Regions from separate parts of the Homo sapiens genome. Here region 1 is linked to region 2. Evidence: fine-mapped expression QTL. A gene starts in region 2. The other region holds a variant in brackets. All regions are shown on one strand. Distances are from middle to middle.

What was found.
Region 1: its variant is fine-mapped to the expression of PLA1A in skeletal muscle (GTEx, PIP above 0.99). The same link has a PIP of 0.9 or more in nasal epithelium.

Annotation. Positions count from the first base shown.
Region 1 is chr3:119,615,015-119,625,292 of GRCh38, reverse strand. It overlaps PLA1A (phospholipase A1 member A), which reads right to left. Exons shown (of 11, transcript NM_015900.4): 6 at 9,192-9,281; 7 at 7,107-7,274; 8 at 5,641-5,730; 9 at 61-169. Among named protein-coding and RNA genes, the nearest start is that of PLA1A, 22 kb to the right of the region's middle. RefSeq lists an enhancer at 969-1,168. The variant G/A (reference allele first, on the strand shown) is at 5,875.
Region 2 is chr3:119,592,083-119,602,360 of GRCh38, reverse strand. It overlaps PLA1A (phospholipase A1 member A), which reads right to left and starts at 4,476. Exons shown (of 11, transcript NM_015900.4): 1 at 4,375-4,476. The coding sequence starts at 4,447. RefSeq lists enhancers at 960-1,459, 1,640-1,779, 3,608-3,797.

The DNA of each region.
Region 1 (10,278 bases), 23 kb before region 2:
AAAATGAAAAAGTAACCAACTCCTAAGGGGAGGAGTCAACCAGGTGGGACACTTACGTACATGGTGATCTTAGATGAAGAGGTGATGTTACTGCTAAGGAAGGTAACCTCGATGTTGGTGTCCTTGTTTCTCAGTTCCTTCAAGTGAAACTCCACGAGGCTGTGATGCACTAGGAAACCAAAGCACAACAGAGACTGGCCAGAGGGCAGAAGGTGCAATGGGCAAAAACCCCAGAGAGCAGCAGTGTGGTTGGGAATCTTGGCTCTATCTCTTAGTGGCTGTGTGCCCAGGAGCAGATCACCTATAATCTCAGGTCCTCAGTTTCCTCAAGTGCAAATTGAGGATAATAAAAATAGACACTTGGCTGGGCGCAGTGGTTCACGCCTGTAATCCCAGCACTTTGGGAGGCCGAGGCGAGTGGATCACCTGAGGTCAGGAGTTTGAGACCAGTCTGACCAACATGGTGAAACCCCATCTCTACTAAAAATATAAAAATTAGCCAGGTGTGGTGGCGGGTGCCTGTAATCCCAGCTACTCAGGAGGCTGAGACAGGAGAATCGCTTGAACTCAGGAGGCAGAGTTTGCAGTGAGCAGAAATTGCACCACTGCACTCCAGCCTGGGCGGCAGAGCAAGACTCCGTCTAAAAAAAAAAAAAAATAGATACCCTAGGTCTGAAATAAGTGGGTTAATATGTATGAACTTCTCAGGACAGTGCCTGTGCCTAGGAAGCATTCAGTAATGTTAGTTTTTGTTATTTTGTAATACTAATGTTTTACTTCCCCTTGTTTGCTGACATATTCATGGTGGGATGATCTTGAATGAGCCAAAATGCATCTATCATATACGGCTATCTTTTGTTTGTGTCCCCTCCGAGTTCATGTTTAAACTGAATGCTCTGTGCAACAGTACTGAGAGGTGGGGCCTTTGAGGGAAGGGATTAAGTCATGAAGGCTCTACTATCATGAATGAAATAGTGCCTTATAGAAGGGCTCAAGGGAATTGGCAGGGCCCTTATTTGACCTCCTGCGTTCTGCTGTGTGTGAACACGGTATCTGTCCCCTCTGGAGAATGCAACAGCAAAGCACCTTCTTGGGAGCAGAAAGTGCAACCCTTATAGACATGGAGTGCCGGCGCCTTGATCTGGGACTTCCCAGCCTCTAGAGCTGTGGGAAAATAAATTTCTGAGCTTTGTAAGTTACCCAGTCTCAGGTACTGTGTCATAGTAGCACAAGTAGACTAAGACATAAACTAAAGGTTTAACTCATAAGGTCAGGCGTGGTGGCTCACTCCTGTAATCGCAGCACTTTGGGAGGCCAAGGCGGGTGGATCACCTGAGGTCAGGAGTTTGAGACCAGCCTAGCCAATATGGTGAAACCCTGTCTCTACTAAAAATATAAAAATTAGCCAGGCATGGTGGCAGGCACCTGTAACCCCAGCTACTAAGGAGGCTGAGGCAGGAGAAGCATTTGAACCCGGGAGGCAGAGGTTGCAGTGAGCCGAGATGGTGCCGTTGCATTACAGCCTGGGTGACAAGAGTGAAACTCTGTCTCAAAAAAAAAAAAAAAAAAAAAAAAGAAAGAGAGAATTAACTCATTAAATACAGCAACGGCCCTGCTCCCTCTCCACACACCCAGCGTCAGGGAAGCAGGCTGTGTGTGTAGGAGACTGCTCCTCTCCCTGCAGCCGCTGGTTACCTATGTGGCATCCAGACTCTCCCTTGAGCAGCATGGACACTGGAGCTCTCAAAGTGAGTGTCGCCAACATAGACTGGGTGTACAGCCTGGGCCATGGTGATACCCCTGGGACCTGCTGTCCCTCTGGCAAGAGAAGGTAAGAAAGATTACAGGCCAGGCATAGTGGCTCATGCCTGAAATCCTAGTACTTTGGGAGGCCAAGGTGGGCAGATCACTTGAGCCCAGGAGTTCAAGACCAGCCTGGGCCACATGGCAAGACCCAGTCTCTACAAAAAAACAAAAACAAAAAATTAGTTGGGCATGTGGTGTGTACCTGTAGTCCCAGCTATTTGGGAGGCTGAGGTGGGAGGATCACCTGAGCATGGGAGGTTGTAGCTGCAGTGAACCGTGACTGTGCCACCACACTCCAGCCTGGGTGACAGTGGGAGACCCTGTCTCAAAAAAAATCAAAATTAAAAATTTTAAGAAAAGCCAGGCGCAGTGGCTCATGCCTGTAATCCCAGCACTTTGGGAGGCTAAGGCAGGCAGATCATCTGAGGTCAGGAGTTCGAGACCAGCCTGGCCAACATGGTGAAACACCGTCTCTACTAAAAATACAAAAAAATTAGCAGGGTGTGGTGGTGGATGCCTGTAGTCCCAGCTACTCGGGAGGCTGAGGCAGAAGAATTGCTTGAACCCAAGAGGCGGAGGTTGCAGTGAGTCAAGATCGTGCCACTGCACTCCAGCCTAGGTGACAGAGCGAGACTCTGTCTCTAAATAAATAAATAAATAAGAAAAGAAAGATTACAGTTTCCCTAACACACTGTCCTTTTTTTTTTTACTAAGGGGTAGGTGCAACCTGGTGGCATTTTGCAATCACTTTAGTCTCGGAATTTTCCCAGGCTCCTTTGGTGATGGGAACATAGCTAGAGATGCAATCCTTCGCCTCTACTCTACCTGTACTTTCTCATTTGCCACATTTTATGGGCTAACATTGGGGAAGGGAACATAAACTGGATGCAGGTGAACTCAGCACTAAGTTGAAGGAGTGCTATGGCCCATCTGAGCTCCCTGGGGTTAGGAACAGGGCTCACCAAAAGGTGCCAAGATGCCAAGAACCCACAAGAAGAAAGGGGCCTTGAATGCTTCCCCTCCACAGAGGAGGACATCTTATACCACACCCTGTCTGTCTCTCCTTCTCAGATGTTACTATGGGATATCAATTGTTATGGGGACGGGCAAGGGCTGAACTGGAAAGGATGATATTTGCAATGTGGAAAAAATAGCTAACTTACAGAAGCTTTAGGAATTTAATTCTCAGGGCTGAGTTTGCTATATTATATTATTAATACTTCTTCCTTTGCTAGCAAGTATCATTGATTAAGAAAGTTTTCTAAGATTCTGTCTCCTTCTTCTTCTTCTTCTTCTTCTTCTTCTTCTTCTTCTTCTTCTTCTTCTTCTTCTTCTTCCTCCTCCTCCTCCTCTTCCTCTTCTTCTCCTTCTCCTTCTCCTTCTTCTTCTTCTTCTTCTTTCTTCAGAAACAGGTTCTTGCTCTCTTGCCCAGGCTGGAATGCACTGGCACAATCAGCTCACTGCAGTCTCGAACTCCTCTCCTCAAGCAACCCTCCCACCTCAGCCTCCCGAAGTGCTGGGATTAGAGACGTGAGCCACTGCACCTGGCCTACTTCTTTCTTCACTTACCCTGGAGGCCCCAAGGGAGCTAGGCCTAATGTTGGGTGGGTGGGAATTAGTGGAATCAAATCTGCACAGGAACATGTCTCATGTCGTACAACACAGAGTCCTGAGTGGTTGGTCAGGAGGCCTGGATCCAAGGCCCAACCCTGCTGCTTACAAGCCATGCTGCCTTGCCTAAGACACTGAGCCTCTCCATGCCTCAGTTCCCTCATCTGCAAGCCATAGCCCTCAACTTATCACACAGGACATGGTAAGGATGGAGTGAAGTAATGGAGAAAAGGTACACTATGTGAAAAACTGTTCTATGAGGGAATATATTGTTTAAAAATTATTATTTGGTAGAAGATCCTCTGCCCATGCTGGCGCATGCCTGGCACAGGTCAACATTGCTGAAGTCAAAGCAGACCAAGAGTGCTAGGCATGGGAGCCCAGTGCCATGATGGCCTGAGAGTGGCTGGAGAGCTGCTGGTCCCTACCCCCTCCCTACCCATATCTGTCCAGGGAGAGCAGGGAGGACTCCGCTTCCATCCCTAGAAGTGACAGCTCAAGGCAGAGCATGCCTGTTTATGTGCCCCTCTGTGGTTTTGGAACCAACAGGGCTACGCTTCTGAAGGTGTGGGGAGGTGGTCTCACAATAAATACAAAAGAGTCAGAAAAAACATGGCCCTGTGAACCCCCTCAGCAGGGACCTTAACATGCTGTTAGTCTCCAGGCATTCCCCACACTTTCCTGCTGGGTATATTCTTAGCTGCACAGACACAGAGGCACCAGCTCAGGTTGCTGTGAATCTGCCCAGCAGCTGGAATTAGAAGTCAGGACATCTGGTCCTGGCAACACCACCTCCACCACCAGACAAAACATCCTCCCGCATGCCAACTCAGATGGGGTGGCGCTGACAGAAGGGGAGCTGAGACGTACGGCCTGCGGACAGCAGGTTCTCAGAAGATGGAAGCATGGTGGTGGTGAGGAAGGAGTATAGAGTTTACAGTCAGGAGACCTGGAGTTGAGTTCTGACCTTTTCATCCAGCTGTGGAGACTTGGGCATGCCACTTGGTCTCTCAGAGCTTCCCTTTCCTTAAGTCTCCCAGTTGGGTTGTTGAAAGAGCTGATAAGGACATGAAAAGCCCACAGTTGACTCTGTAGTCCACTTTGCTCCTAAGAGGTAGCCAAAAATTTTCTCTGGCATGAAGATACAAACACCCTAACTATTCTTCTCCCAAATTCTCTGATTGACTAAGGGAAGGAAATTATTACTGATTGGGTTCCAGTCCCTGTGCTAGTGATCTCCTGTGCACCATTTTATTTTATACTCACAATTGGTTCTTTAAAGTAGGTACTGTTATGGTTCCCATTTTCACATAAGGATATAGAGTTCAGAGAGTTTAAATAACTTGTTCCTGATCACACAGCTGGTAAGTGGAGAAGCTGAGATTTGAATCCAGGTCCAGGTGAACACAGAGTCTGAGCTCTAGGCTCCATGTCATATGGCACCAGGCCTTCTGGTACCAGGAAGATATTTTCACAAAGATCCCTGCACTGACTTGACACAAGCTGATCAGAAAATCAGTTAAAATTGGGTGGCATGTTGTTTATCATCCAAGCCGGCATACTTTATCCTGTACACATGATAAAGCAAACAGGACCCCAGGATAACCAGCATAAACCAGGAAGTATAGTCACCCTAGTTAAGATGCACATAGCATAGGGAAGGATGACGGTTTAGCTTGTAATGTATTTCATGGATTCTGGACACATTTTTACTTCACATTTAACATCGTTACAATCACCAGCATCCTAGCTTCAAGGAAATGCCATGGTTAGGAGCAACAGTGAGAAGCTGGAATGCATCTGTGAAGGGGAAGGAGACCAGAGGGAAAGGTTCAGTATTCCCCAGGGACCCCAACCTTGGAGGCTGCCAGGGTGAGAACCACATAGGGTGGGCGCCAAGAAGTGGGAAATGAGAGTGCAGAAAGGAGGCAGCCGGAGGACACTCCTAAACATCACTCGAGAGAGAAGACCCACTAGAGGGTAAATTTTGAGGGTAAGAGGAAATACGATCAGTAGATAGACAGTAAGAAGCCCCCAAGTCCTCATCTGAAGAGCAATCGGTTGGACTCACTCTGAAAGTTTTGGTTCAGACCAGGGGCTGTTGCCACACCTCCGGTGATGCCTTTGCTCTTATCATTCACTCCCACCCAGGCTACCACACTGGGCTGGACTCCTCTGGTGGTGCCCTGGCAGAGCTGAGCTCATGCATTTCCCCCTACTCACTGCAGTACGGAGCACTGGAAGTAGTCAGGAGGTAGACTTTCACTTCCTTGGGGAGCGGCTCTATCTTGACACCACCTTGTTCCACCAGTCCTGGAAATAAAGAAGCAAAGACAGCAGAGTCCTGAGAAGGCTATCTTAGGGTCCCACAGCACCCAGCCACGTGTTTATTAATTCATGCACCCATTTATTCCACGGACATCTACACCATACACGCACTATGTGCTGTATTCTAAG[G/A]TGAGTCCTGGGATCCCAGCAACTCGGTCCAGTGGGCAGTAAACACACACATAAACGGAAATATGCTTTTCAGATCATCTGACTCATTCTTGGCAGGTTATTATAAGAAATCTGACACTAATCTGTCTCTAACTTGCAAAACCAATCTCCTATAGTAGTTGTTTTCATGACATTTATATCCCGTGCAGTGGGAGCATGGTGAAGCAGGAAGTGTTTGACCTGAAGACTAGTGGATGACAGGTGGAGAGAGGGCATTCTGGGAAGAGAGTATGGTTAGGACCAAGGCACACAGGTGAGGAAGCCCGATGTACACTTGGAAGTACAAGTAGTTAGCACCACCAGGTGTTCAGTGCAAGAGAAAGTGTAGTGAGAGATGAGGCTGGGCAGACAGTGTGAGGTGGCTGTTATGTCTGTGGGTCCATGGCATCTAGGGGAAACTGACATATGCACAATGAATAGGAAATAATGATGACTGGTTCTATCATTGGAAGCTACCCTACTTTACTATTTTGTCAAGCTGGTACCCATTTCACTCATATAAGCAGTGACAGGCTGCTGCAGTTGAGTGGCAGCCAGGGGTAGCGGGAAGTGAGAGAGTGCGGGAGGGAGAGAAACCATTTCCACTGCCCAGGAGTTTTTCCTGGAGCTCTTCATCCTGGATAACCACGGGATATGCATAGCAATGATCTACACAAGTGAGTTAGAGGCCAGATCCTGCAGCCTTCCTGGCATCCTTTCCCCAGACTGGCCTGGATCATCCAGGAAGGTGCCCAAGTCCTCCAGCAACTAGGCATCCCCCCAGCTCTCACGAGGCCACCAGAATATCCGACCTGTAATGTAGGTCTTGTGTTCCACTCTTAGGGATTCCCCACCATAGATTTAGGGTCTATGAAGGGTCATAGATTTAGGGTCTATGAAGAACTGGAGAATGGCCAGAAGTGAGAAAGACCTATAGGCAGCATCTGGTCTGAGAGTGGAGGAACCTGTATGTGGGAAGGGTGTGTGTGGGGCAAGGATGGCCATAGGGAACACTATAGAGAGTGAGGGGTGGGGCACGAGAACCAACCGTCCACCTCCAAGTAAGAACAGGCTGAGCACCTCATTGCTTAATTTTCTTTTCCCAAATTGGATAGAATTCTTGACCATAGGACATCAGGACATTAAGAGGGGACAACTAGCAGGGCTTGAACTTCCCCACATTGTCAAAGGAAGTCAAAGGGGTAGCACTTTACCTATCCTTGGGCAGGAAAGCAGAAAAGGGTTAAAGCAATCCAGACAGCGTCCAGCAAGGAAGGCCTTGTAGCTGGCACAGGGAAAGGCCATCAGTGGACAGGAATTCTCCAGGGCGCTGATGTAGAGGTGCACAGCCCTCATGTGATCACAGATCAGATAACTATAACCTGAACAGAGAAAAAACACAACCAAGGTTTCAGTCAAGACAAATGGAAATCTATGCTGTTTAGTGAAACTCTATTGAATTTTATATTCCAGCAAGCTGTAAATACATGCATGGGAGTCCCCTCAAATCACTTTTTCAGAATATTAGTGTACATGGTTACTACATTCTACTTTTTTCATTTTACTTTTCCTGAGATACATAAGCATAATCCATCAAGAAAATTGCTTGATTTGAGATGCATTCTTTTTTTTCTTTTCTTTTCTTTTCTTTTTTTTTTGAGACGGAATCTCACTCTGTCACCCAGGCTGGAGTGTAATGGCATGATCTTGGGCCACTGCAACCTCTGCCTCCTGGGTTTAAGCAATTTTCCTGCCTCAGTCTCCTGAGTAGCTGGGATTACAGGCGCACACCACCATGCCTCACAAATTTTTGTATTTTTCATAGAAACAGGGTTTTGCCATATTGGCCAGGCTGGTCTCAAACTCCTGACCTCAGGTGATCCACCTGCCTCAACCTCCGAGAGTGCTGAGATTACAGGTGTGAGCCACCGTACCTGGCCTTGAGATGGATTATATGATCATGCAAACTCTCCTTCATAAAATGGGAATATATAGAGAGTTGATGATGCTGCCCCATTTCTCAAAATGGGTATTTGTGCATATTTTTACCTCCATTATCATCAGCCATACAACCAATTTTTTACAACCTCATTATACCCTACCCAGCAGTGAGACTGCTGCATCAGCCGCCGTTTGTGGTCACTCTCTACACCCAATGTGCTGAGGCTCACCGGGCCAAATGACTGATATGCCGAATTTGTCAAATATCCCAGTTTACCAAAACTTATTTCACTGTTATTTACTATTTAAGTTTGCAGCATTCAACATTGGATAAATTGGCTGGAACTAAGAAGTATGTGGTGAGCTGTATACAACTCCAGGGTCCTGGGGTCTTTAAACTCTCCCTGCACCTTGAGACCTCGTTGCTGAGACCTGCAACCAAGGCCAAGCAATATTTTGACTTTCCTTTCCCCTGTGGTTGGGACACTCTGTATGGCCAAGCTCTCTCCAGTTGCAACAGGGAGCTGGGGCAGAGACAAACTAAACCCTTCTCAAGTTGTGTTATGAAGAAAAAATGAAAAGTGGTCAATTGAAATGCCACCAAATCTTCAAAAGCCATTGAAACCAAACTATCCTATTTTATCAGAATTGCTGAGAAATTCGCAAATTGCGAAAAGAAGCATGTTTTTGGAAAACTAGTAAATTTGGTAAAATAGATCAGTAGTTATTCAATAAGATTGTCAAAGGAATCCTTAAAATGTTAGAAATTTGGTAAAGCAAGAAAAGACTAAAAACATAGTAAACAGAAATCAGCATTTTAAATTTTTATATGAAATTCTGATATATTGGCTATATTCATAAGATATAAGAAAACCAAATAATTATTGACCTTAGATTTTGACAAATTTAGTCTGCTAAGAATATATCAATAAATATATTTTTAAAAATTCCAGAAGGCTGTATTTAAAGAGAGGAAATGTACAGTCATTGAATGTGTTCAAAAAGATCATCTTGAAAACAATTTTAGAGGACTGTTTGAGTTGGTAAATATGGTGAAATGGCTGGGCAGTGAATTGATCCTTCTGCTCACCAGCTTTGGGCACAATGGCTTGCCTCTGCCACAGCAAGGCTCTGTAGAGGATGCAGTTGGTGTGGACTGTGCCACACCCTCCCCTCAAATGCCTGGGCTCTGAAGACATCCATCCTTGAATACATTCTGAGTAAAGCGTTATGGGACATAGCAAAGGACACTGTCAAGTAGACCCTCTATGGCCCACTCTGGCTGACTCAACACAAAAGCTGTTGGTGAATTTCAATCTCCGGGGTTGCCAAATACCAGATTGTACTGGCTTTCTGACCTGCGTAAAAGAAGGTGGGGCAGCCAGGTTGGTCTTGGCCTCCGTTGACGAAGTAGTCCACATGTCCAACGGGAATCCGAATACCCAAATCTGAAAGGAGGCACAACTCCATTAACTTCCTTACTTCAGGGGGTCGGCTCACAGCGGACCTCAAACTCTGACCTTGGGAGCCCACCCACTCTCTGCCACGTCACTTCTAAGTGCTGTGAGACTTCACAGGATGAGCCCTCAGACAGATTTCTTTTCTTTTCTTTTCTTTTCTTTTTCTTTTTTTTTTCTGAGGCTTTCTTTTTTCGCTCTCTCGCTCTTGTCACCCAGGCTGGAGTGCAGTGGCGCCATCTTCTCTCACTGCAACCTCCGCCTCCCGGATTCAAGCGATTCTCCTGCCTCAGCAGGAGTAGCTGGGATTACAGGCGGATGCCACCACACCCGGCTAGTTTTTGTGTTTTTTTAGTAGAGACAGGGTTTCACCATGTTAGCCAGGCTGGTCTTGAACTCTTGACCTCAGGTGATCCACCCGCCTCAGCCTCCCAGTTTTCTAAAGGGATTTTTCATGCTAAAAGGAACCAAAGAGATTCTGTTGGTAAGATGCTCATATTTGCCTAAGAAAATCAAGAACAATATCCTGTAACACAAGTTTTTGTAACTCAGTAAATGTTATAAACTTGGTAAGTTTCCTCATTGAGTAGTTTTGGTTTTCCTTTGAGTAATAGTTCAGATAAATGTGTATGGGGTCACATTTCCACAGTCTCCCCAAAAACATATCTTTTGTGCTCTCCTGACTGAGTGGAAATAGAACATGGCTCCAGAGCGGAGATAAGAGAGCATCCTCTGCCCTCTTTCTGTCCCTGTGACCAATTCCTGGACCCTCTGCTGTGGCAGACTTGAGCCCTCAGACTGGCTCAGGCCCAGCTGCTGAAGACCCCGACTTTCTCCTTCTGTCATCTGTCAGTATTGGAAGAAATTGATTGTGTATTATTTGCTTACTGCCATCGACCTGGAGGTTAAGCAATGACCTATAAGCCATCCTTGAGTCTTGCCTTTCCCTCATACCCCACATGCAGCCCATCATGAGTCTAGTCAGCTC
Region 2 (10,278 bases):
AGAAAGGAAAAACAGAAAATCAAATGTAAAACTATAGCATAAAGGAATTGAAACACTAGTTTCAAAACTATCCCTCAGAAAAGTCTAAGAGGCCTGAGAGTTTCACAGAGGAATTCTATTGATCCCTAGCTTACACATGCTGTTCCAGGAATAGAAAATGGGAGACAGGATTCCAGTTCATTCTATGAGAATATCCGAAGTACCAAAAGTGCAAAGGACAGGGGAGAAGGAAAAACTAAAGGCTACTTTCATTTATAAACATAAACAGAAATCTAAGATAAAATATCAGCAAATCTAAATCCATCCAGGATAACAAGACCACAAAGTACATCATGGCCCAGCAAGGTTTGCTGGGCCAATTCTTTGCAAAGAATTAAAGGCTGTTTTAACATTAAAAAAAGTATTAATATAATTCACGTATGAACAAACTAAAGAAGAAAAACCATATGCTCATCTCAACGGATGAGCAGAAAAAAAGAACACTTGACAAAATTCAACCCTCTTTAACATAAGAAAGGATATCTCCTAAAAGCCTACAGTAAGGATTAGATTTACTGGGAAATATTAGAAGTATTCCATTTAGAACAGGGAACAGATAAGAAATGTCTGCTATCACTGCTTCTATTAAATATTGTGCTAGAGGACCTAGTCCTAACCACTGAAACAAGACAATGCAATGGGATAAAAGTTATAAAGTTTGAAAAGGGAGAGAAGAAAATTGCCAGTATTTGAAGCTGATAAATAGGGAAGCATATTCAGATACTGCCTCTACCTAGCCACCACTCCAACCAAAGAACAGTGACACATGAGTATCTGGCCAGGCTGACCAGAGATTTATAAACAATAGAAATGAGGGGTGCAGAATGAAATACTGGCTTGTCTGAGTCTGAAAATAGCCTATAGTTTTCTATTCTTGAGTCTTTGACACTGAAGAAGTGTTAGAGAAGGGTGAGTAAGGCCTGGTAACACCCATGTTTCCATAATGGAAAGTGACTCTCAGGCATATATGACAGAGCTCCCTTCACCCGCCTGGGCTGCTCATGGTTCCCATGGGTGGCCTCTGTGATCTGCAAATGCTGGAAATGTGCTACTCTGCACTCCCACCTGCACCTGTCTCAGGTGTGTTCTGTAGATCGGTATCCCCCATGGGCTTTTGTTTCGTAGAAGTGTTATTTTGCTAAAACAGTTTTGATTCTGTGGCCTGGACCAAGAAGGGAAGGGTGTTCTGGCAGTGACAGAGTTGGCACAAAACCACATCAGACACTTTGTTATCAAATGTGGAGATGACAGAGGAGCCATCGGTGCATGTGTCGGGAAGCAGGCACCCTCCTCCAGGCTCCTCGGGAAGACACTGCAGGAGGGGAGGAGGGCGGAGGCCCCCTCCCAATAGCTGACTTGAGGGTGGCTCTGCCACGCATGCAGGGTGCAGCACCACCTTCAGGCCCAGGCTGGCCTTACAGAGGCTGGTGTCACAGGCTGCTTCTGCCACCAGCTCAGCACTATGGGCCACTGAACTTCCTGCCACCCCCTTGAGCCCTGGGCTCCCCACAGACAGAGCTGTGCTATCAGATGACCTGTGGATTGAGGCATCAGCAGCCAGGAGTGTCTCTGAAATGGGCCACCCTCTGGAACCCTTCTTTGGCTGAATTGTTTCAGGATGAGTGTCATTTAATCAATCTGCCTAACGTCAGGAAGTAGAGATGAGGACTGCAGCCCGCTCAATTTCTTTCTTCTCAGTTACCAAGGCTTTTGGCTTATTGAATGTGTCCTGTGTGCCTGGGCCTGGGTGAGGCTCTGGGGATTCAAGGATGAAGAAGACGCCAGCCATAACTGCCCTTTGGGAGCTCAAAGTCTAGCGGAGAAAGGGAAAATAAGCAGGCCCCACAGCAAATAGGGATGTAAGATCTGTGACCAGGAAACATAGGTACTGAGAGAACACAAAGAAAGACCACCTACCCCAGATGGAGGAAGACTTGTGCATCCACCTGGAGGAGAGGACGCCTGAGCCAGCCTGGAAGCTCAAGGGCCAGGTTGATCAAGGAGCTCAACAATCTAAAGCTCCACAGTCCAAGGAAAAACTAGGTGTGACTGGGGTTGTCATGAAAGATTGTGTGGGTACACAGCCAGGAAAGTGAGTGGAGGCTGAACTTCCAAGAGGCCCATGTGGGTCAGCTACTGCCCTTGTGTGACAGCAGGCACCTGGATACCTCCTGAACCTCCTCCCTCCCGATCATTTGAGCTCTTCCTTTCCTTTACCTTGAGCTCTCTGCATCCGGCATCTTCTTTCTGTCCACCTACTTCATCTAGGCTGTCTGAAGTCAATTACATCCTTTTTCCTTTTCCCTTTGGCATATTTCTATCCCTCCCAGCCACACACACACACACACGCACACACACTTCTATCTCTGCCTATCCATCAACTCACTTAATTTCTGAGACAGCACTACTAAAAGTAAGAATAAGGAACATTAACTTAATAAATATTGTTGCTGTTGACAGTGAAACACTCAGTTAAGGTGGGAAAGGAAGAGAAGCGGATGGGAAATAGAGAATGCCTCACTGGGTAAGTGTGAAAAGAAAGACACCAGAGACAAACAAAGGCAAGAAGACCAGGCAAGGAAATACCCAGGCCCTGCTAACATGTTATTATAAGCCCACTTCCTGCCCAGAGCATCTAGAATGATTCCCACATATGTGGCTGGAACCTGATCAGCTTCTGCGCTGACCCTAACCCTGCTATCTGGTTCAGAATTTCTGAGCTTCTCTTATCTGTGTGACAGAGGCCCCAGGCTTACCGACAGATGAGCTTCCAAAAAGAGTTTGATGCCAATTTGCTATAGTCCTCCCACTCCTCAACCTTCAAATCAGGACAACTAGCAAATGCCTTCCAGCCCCTAAGGAGGCCTGGGGCTCCTGAGCAGGGACAAAGTGGGCCTGCCAAGCCCACTTCTCAGAACGGGACCCACAGCTCTCCTAGGTGATACCTCCCACCTTCTCTCCAAGGTGGCTCATGACAGCCCTGTTCCCTCCACTTCCATCAGCCTAGACAACAATTTGCTAATAATAAAATCACAAAGGAATAAGCAACTGCAAAAGTCAGGCCCTGTGCACAGATGATCCCATTCAGTCCTTACAGCATTCCTATCTGGTAAGGATCATCTCTAGCTACAGGTAAAGAAAGCCACTTCCTCAAGGTCACATAGCTACAAAGAAACAGAGCCAGGATTCCAGTCTGGGTTAGCCCGACCCAGACAGAGCCTATTCCCCATCAGCTCAGCCCATTGCCTCCTCTAAGCATCAATGTCTGCAATATTCACTGGACATCTGCTCTATACAGAGCACAGCACTAACTATGCTAAAAGAGACAGAAGCCTCAAATCCTCACCTTTTAGGGACAACTAATTGAGGTAGGAGAAAGCACATACAGAGCTCAACAGCACCTCTGAAAAACCACCCATGAGTGCAAGGAGAGCATGCAGTCACCCAGTGGAACTTTGTAGCAGGGAGGGGTGCTGAGCAGAAAAAGAATGAGTACAAGGGAGATAGGAATACAGAAGCCCCCTTGAAAGATGCAAAGAACAGAAATCAATCCAAAGGTGATGTGAGCAACCCCAGGCAGAAGCAATGACATATTCTAGAGCCAGGGAATGAGAATTAAATGTCCAGCGGAGAAGACAGAAAAGCAGCCTGCTATTGTGAGTAGAGGGAGGGGATTTTTCTAAGGGTGACCTCACCATAGTGAGAAGGAGTCTTCTGAGAACTTCTGAGAACCCAAAGTAGAGCAGGTTAATTTTCTGTTAGGCAAGAGGGATCAGTGGGTCAGTTCTTTACTGGGGGAAAGGTAAATGCAAATTGGCATCTGAGGGAAGTTTTCCCAGGGGCATCTGAGGTTAGCAGGGACTAGTTCCCATCACCCAGCCAGGATGACAAACCACTTGAGTTAGGTTGCTGGATTAGAAAGGACATCTAACAATCTCAGTGACAAAATCATTATTAGTTTGGAAAACCTAAATTTTAAAATTAAATATATCTTGGAATGGTGGATATTTATGGGGTGAAAAATGAATATCTTAGAATTAACCAAATTTTATTTTCTTACAGTTGGTCCTGGCTTGTGCAAGGTGAGAAAGGGTTTTTTTATGTGGGCTTTAGAAAAATGAGTCGGATAACCAGGGAAAGTTCAGGTTTTGTGACCTGTTTACCATCATTCCGATTATGATAAAAGGGGTTTTTTTCCCCTACTGTTTTAAATTCACCTCAGAAGAGGCAAAAGGCTTTTAGGGGATCTTCCAAAAGTTAGTACTGCATAAGTAGTTGGAGAAATATGATCACTGACTGAAATAAGTTCCTCCCAAGGCCTGAGCCCTGGCTTACCTGAACTTCCAACGCTGAGCCACAAAATGAGGCCCCCCACCCAGAAGCAGCTCTCCCAGGGACCTGGGGGCATCGCTGAGCTGGAAATCTCAGAGCTGGTATGGAGTAATTCCCTAAAGCCAAAGAGATCATATAACCCAGCCTCTCAGAAAACACCCACGTGGATTTCACTAATCATTAACTAGCCTCATGACCTGAAAAGGAAAAATAAATTCTTCTTTATTTATTTAAATGCCAGAGTTTTCGGTTTCTTCTTCTCAATGAAAATAAATACACTTTCTTTTTTGTTAACCAGAGTGCATTGAAACACACTGTCCCTCTTTGAGCCAAACATGATCAGGAAACTATTTCCTGCACCTCTCCCACTTCCCGTGATAGGATGTTAGTAATAACCAAGGCAGAAGTCCTGCATCTCTGGGTGGCCAGAAACCCCTCATTGTGTTGGAATTATCTGTGGACATGTGTGTCTCCCTAGAAGATTCTGAGTGACTTGAGAGCAAAGGCTTTCTCTTTTCATTTTTGAATACCCAGTGCCTAGCACAAGACTGAGATAATACTATATATTAAGTGTCCATTTAAAGGGAAGAAGGGAAGAAAAAGTTTCCTCTGGAGAGTACTATCATTTTGTAGAATCTTGGGGCTAGGAGTCAAGTCCAACTTTGGAGATGTTCAACTTCCTGAATTCACAAAGAAACTGCATATTAGAAAAAGAAAATGACCTGTAGAGATCCCGTTGGTGGAAGTGGCAGAGCCGGGCCTGGAACCAAGATGGTTCCAGCACCATATGGCCTCTCCACCCCAAAGAGTGGCAGAAACCACAAAGAGCTATTTCTAGGCAAGTCAATGGGGCAGAGGCAGAGGGCAGGGCACTTGCCCCCCACTCCCTAAATCATAACACATTGCTGTGAGGTAGACAGCCCACTGGCAGGGCCAGGATCATCTTTTCCAAACAATAACTCTCTGAGGTGAGTATTATCACAGAGAAGTTAAGTAATTTGTACAACAAATTACTTATTTGTATTATAATTGTATACAAATTACTTAACTGTGACAATTACACAGTTAGTAAGCACAGATAAGTACAAATTACTTCTCTGTGATAGAAGTAATTTGTATTAAATACAAACATTTGTGTTTTACACAGCTGGTAGGGCACAGAGAATTTAAGTCATTTGCCTGAGGTCATGCAGAGCTGGGATTTAAAGCGGGATGAGCCAGCCCCAGAATCCATGCTCTGAGCAACGATACTCTACAGCAACAACTCCTGAAGAGGCTCTGGGACCATGTCATCATGGCTGAACGCAGGATACAATTATTTTGGAGGGGCTAGCCCTTACATCCCCTTGTGCACATGATCTCACTGCTCAAGTGCTGCTGCAACCAGGAAGGGGTGTGGCAATAAGTAGTGCACAGCAGAGGTCACTACTGAAAGCTGTCTTGATATTAGAGACCAAGCCAAGTGTATGAGTTCAGGTCCTCGGAGAAGAAGATGCCAAGGTAAGACAAGATATGCAAGAGATTTATCGAGCTAACACCTGTAAAGAATAAGAGGTACTAGAGAAGCCAGGAAGCGCCTTTAGATGGTGGTGAACATCTGATACCTGTGAAAGAGAATGGGCAGGAAAGAGAGGATTACATAGGAAGAGTCTCAGGCTGCAGCACAGTTTCTAGAATATTCTGACCAGGCCAATGGGGACTCCTCAGGCCAAAGTCTTTTGTGACAGCAGATGTGTTTTGTAGAAATGAGCCTGCATTAGCAGCCACATCTTGCTTAGTCATTAGCTGAGGTCAGCCTCAGCACAAAGACAGAGGTAGATTCAGAAGACAGCAGCTGGAGCCATCAGTCAATCATTTTCCCTACAGCAGGAGAACTGAGGGCTGTTTTCCTAGCCACCCACACCGTGGCCAGAGATAGTTAATCCAGGGTGCCCTTGTGCATGGCATGAATACAGCTGACATTGAGAGAGCACTTTCACTTTCTTTCACATCCAACATCTAGCACAGAGCTCTCCAAGCGGGGTCAGAGTGGTCCCTTCCAGAACCCCCTGCCTCACAACCATCCAATTGACTTGGGACAGATTGCTGGATCCACCCCAGACACACAGAATGAGAATCTTTGGAACTGGGCCCAGGACTCTGCAGTTCCAGCAGGCTCCTCGGGTGATCGTACGCATGCTAGAACCACTAGTCTTCTGTTAATACTTACAATAGCCATGTCCATTTCACCAGTGGAGAAACTGAAGCTCAGATAGGCCAGGGGCTAGGGACACTGCTTGAGAGGGCCAAGGCGAAACAAGATATGCAAGAGTTTTATTGGACTAAACCTCGTCCTTCTGAAAAGTGAGATTACATATTTTAGAAGGTGAGGATGAGACCCTCCTACCTGGAGACACTGAGAGAGCCACAATTCATATTCAGTGTATGCTGTCCATCTCCCCCAAGGAGAATGTCAGCCTCAGAAGGGCAGAGTCCTGGCCTGTTTTGCTCACTGAGATATCCCAGTATGTAACACAGTACTTGCTACACAGCCAGTGGTCAATAAGTATTTGCCAGGGGAAGGCATTGTTCAACTGGTAGGGTGTGCTGGTTAGTTCCCACCCCTCTTTTAGAAAGGGGGTCCTACTCACCCATTGTAAGGTGGAGACAGATGGTTTTATTTGCCTAGGATCTGGGTACACAATGAGCAAGGGACCAGGGCATCAATGTTCAAAATTCTGAAATGCAGTGGTGTAATAATGGCTCACCACAGCCTCACTTCTTGAGCTCAAGCAATCCTCCTGCCTCAACCTCCTGAGTAGCTGAGACTATAGGTGCACACTACCACACCCAGCTAATTTTATTTATTTATTTATTTATTTATTTATTTATTTATTTATTTATTTATTTTTGAGACAGGGTCTTGCTCTATCAACCAGGCTGGAGTGTAGTGGTGTAATCTTGGCTCACTGCAGCCTCGACCTCCTGGCCTCAAGTGATCCTCCCACCTCAGTCTCTCAAATAGCTTGGAGTACAGGCACCTGCCACCATGCCTGGCTAATTTTTTAAAATTATTTTGTAGAGATAGAGGTCTCGCTGTATTGCCCACGCTGATCTCAAACTTCTGGTCTCAAGCAATCTTCCCATCTCAACCTCAAAGCATTGAGATTAGAGGTGTGAGCCACCATATCTGGCCTAACATGTATTTTGTAATAGGTCTACACATATATGCTTTTTTAAAAAATACAAAAACATGGTTAAAAATAAATCTCCATCCCTTTCCCCCAAGTTTCCCAATCCTATAGAAATCAGGCATTGTCATGGTTTTCTTGCTTATCCTCCTAAAGATATTCTATCTCATGCTTTTTAGATTTTTACACCCTTCTTTTGACCTACTACTTTTTTTTTTTTTTTTTTTTTTGACAGTGTCTTGCTCTGTCACCCAGGCTGAAGTGCAGCAGTGCAATCATGGCTCACTGCAGTCTTGGCCTCCTGGGCTCAAGTGATTCTCCCACCTTGGCCTCCCAAGTGGCTGGTACAGGCACACACCACCATGGCCATCTAATTTTTCTTTCTTTCTTTCTCTCTTTCTTTCTTTTCTTTTTTTTTTTTTTAAGAGACAGGGTTTCGCCATGTTGCCCAGGCTGGTCTTGAACTCCTGGGCTGAAGTCATCTTCCCACTTTTGCCTCCCAAAGTGCTCAGATTCTACGTGTGAGCCACCACGCCCAGGCTTACGCAAACTCTTTTGAACCTTGAGTTTCACATTAAACAAAATACTTTGGAGCTGCCTCATTCTTCTTTTAAGGTTGCATAGAATTCCATCAGATAGAATGTGTCATGAAATTTTAGTGCTCAACCCAAAATGGCTTGAAGCCCTTATCCTACCTGATTTTCAGAAAGTCCAATCTTGCCAGATTCCAATTTGAGGTGAAGAGCACGATTATGGAGTCTCTCCACTCCTGCTGTCCTGTATGTCCTGCATGTGAACATGGGTACATGCACGTGCGTGCACGCACACACACTTACCTTCTCAGAACAAGTCATAAAATATAAGTGTAGTGCAAGACAGTTTTCAAGGTCTTGGACTGGGCCCGGTTCTTTCAGCTTTCTGGCTTATAGTTCTCAAGAATAACTGTAGAATGTGCTGGGAATCCAACATCCTGGAATCTGTTCCAGTCCCCCGACTACCCCACACCCCCAAACACGATATCCTTCAATGCTTTAGCTCAGTGATTCTTGTTTCCTTTGAATATAAAACCCAGGGTGGGCTGCCTTCCTGGGGGTCCTCAGTTGTGGTACAAGTGGGCATGTGCAGATGAGGATCCGTGTGCCACAGGCAGCTTTCCTAAGCCTTGGGTACTGGCTCACATGAATTTCAGGCTTCTGTTGTCTGCTGCCTAGCTGTAAGTAATAAGCCAGATTCCTGTAACTCATTGCATGCATAGGTGTTCTGTCTCCCAAGACTCAGACAAATCACAGTGAACCTGCTTTTCACACAGTACGGTCTAAAACCTTATGGAGAAAGAACATTTCATGCCTCTAATATGCCAAACCACATTATTTTAACTTTCATTTAAAAACATCTATATTCTGTCTCTGTTTTTCCAGAAAGAATAAGTAGAGACCAGCTTTATATTAGCCCAGACAAAAAGGTCACTTGTGGTTTTGCCAGAACAGAGATGCTGTGTACCCCGCAGGAGATGCCAAGCCTGCAAGTGTTGAGAAGGCTAAAAATTATTTGTAGCTTTAAAATGACAGTTTGATACTAAAATTCAATGGTTTAGTGTTTATTCCCTGAGATCACCTAACTTCAAAGTAAAATTGTGAACCTTAAGGGTTTATCTTTGGGTGTGCATTATGGCAAGGGAGTATTGTGAGAAGGTTGAAGAGAAAGAAAACCCTGTGAGCACCCGGGGTTGTGTCAAAAGTTTCCCAAATGACATAAGAAACTGGCTGGAGGTGGTTGTCTGGGAATATCCCTGGGTCTCTCATTTCATGACAGCTTGGTAAAAAGAAGACACTAGATACACTTTCTAAAAGCTATCAATAATATATAGATAGTATATGTTAACACATCTTTTTCCATTTTTTGTTTAACTGCTTATTATATGCTAGATACTATGCTGTGTAAAAAGTACAACAATCCCACAAGGTAGATACTATTATTAACCCCATTTTCCACGTTCAGAAACAGGCAGCGCAAGGTTTAATAACTTGCCCAAGGCTACACAAAGTGGCAGAGCATGGATTTGAATTTGAAAAACTACCACCAGCAATAGGTCCTTATGCATTCCACTGAATTTATGCTACCCACTCTCATTCTCACCATTCTCCTCAAGGTGGGCATTATTAGCCTCAACTTACATTAGTCCTGAGCAACCTGAGGCTTGGAGGCATCTGGTGGCAGAGCCGGGTTTCAATGGCAGCTCTCTGGAAAAGATCACAGAGCATGCCTTTTCTTAGTCCTAATTACATAGCAATTACCATGTGCCTGCAACAAGGAAAAAATTCACACCTTCAGAGCACCCCCCTCCTAGGTCTCCTGGATTCAGGGCTGGTGGAATAAGGGACAGTAGAGAGTCCACCTCACCTCAGAATGTCACCTTCACTAGAGCAGTCTCCAATAGAAAGTGTATTTTAGAAGGAAGATATAGTAAGAAGACACAGCCGGCCCCTGAAGTGGGCCAACAGATGGACTGTGTCACTTCCATCTGCTGGCATTGACAATGGGGAGGAGGGTTGTCCATATACCAGCCAAAATGATGAGAAACACTGCTTTGAAGCATGGCTGTCTATTAGTAAATGTTTCTATCCACAGCTCTGTAGATTGGGAGACCAAAGGATTCTTTCTTTGCTCTTATCTCCAAGTCAGACAACCCCATTTTAGACTCATGTTCTTTGGGCATTAGTATTGAAAATTCAGGGGC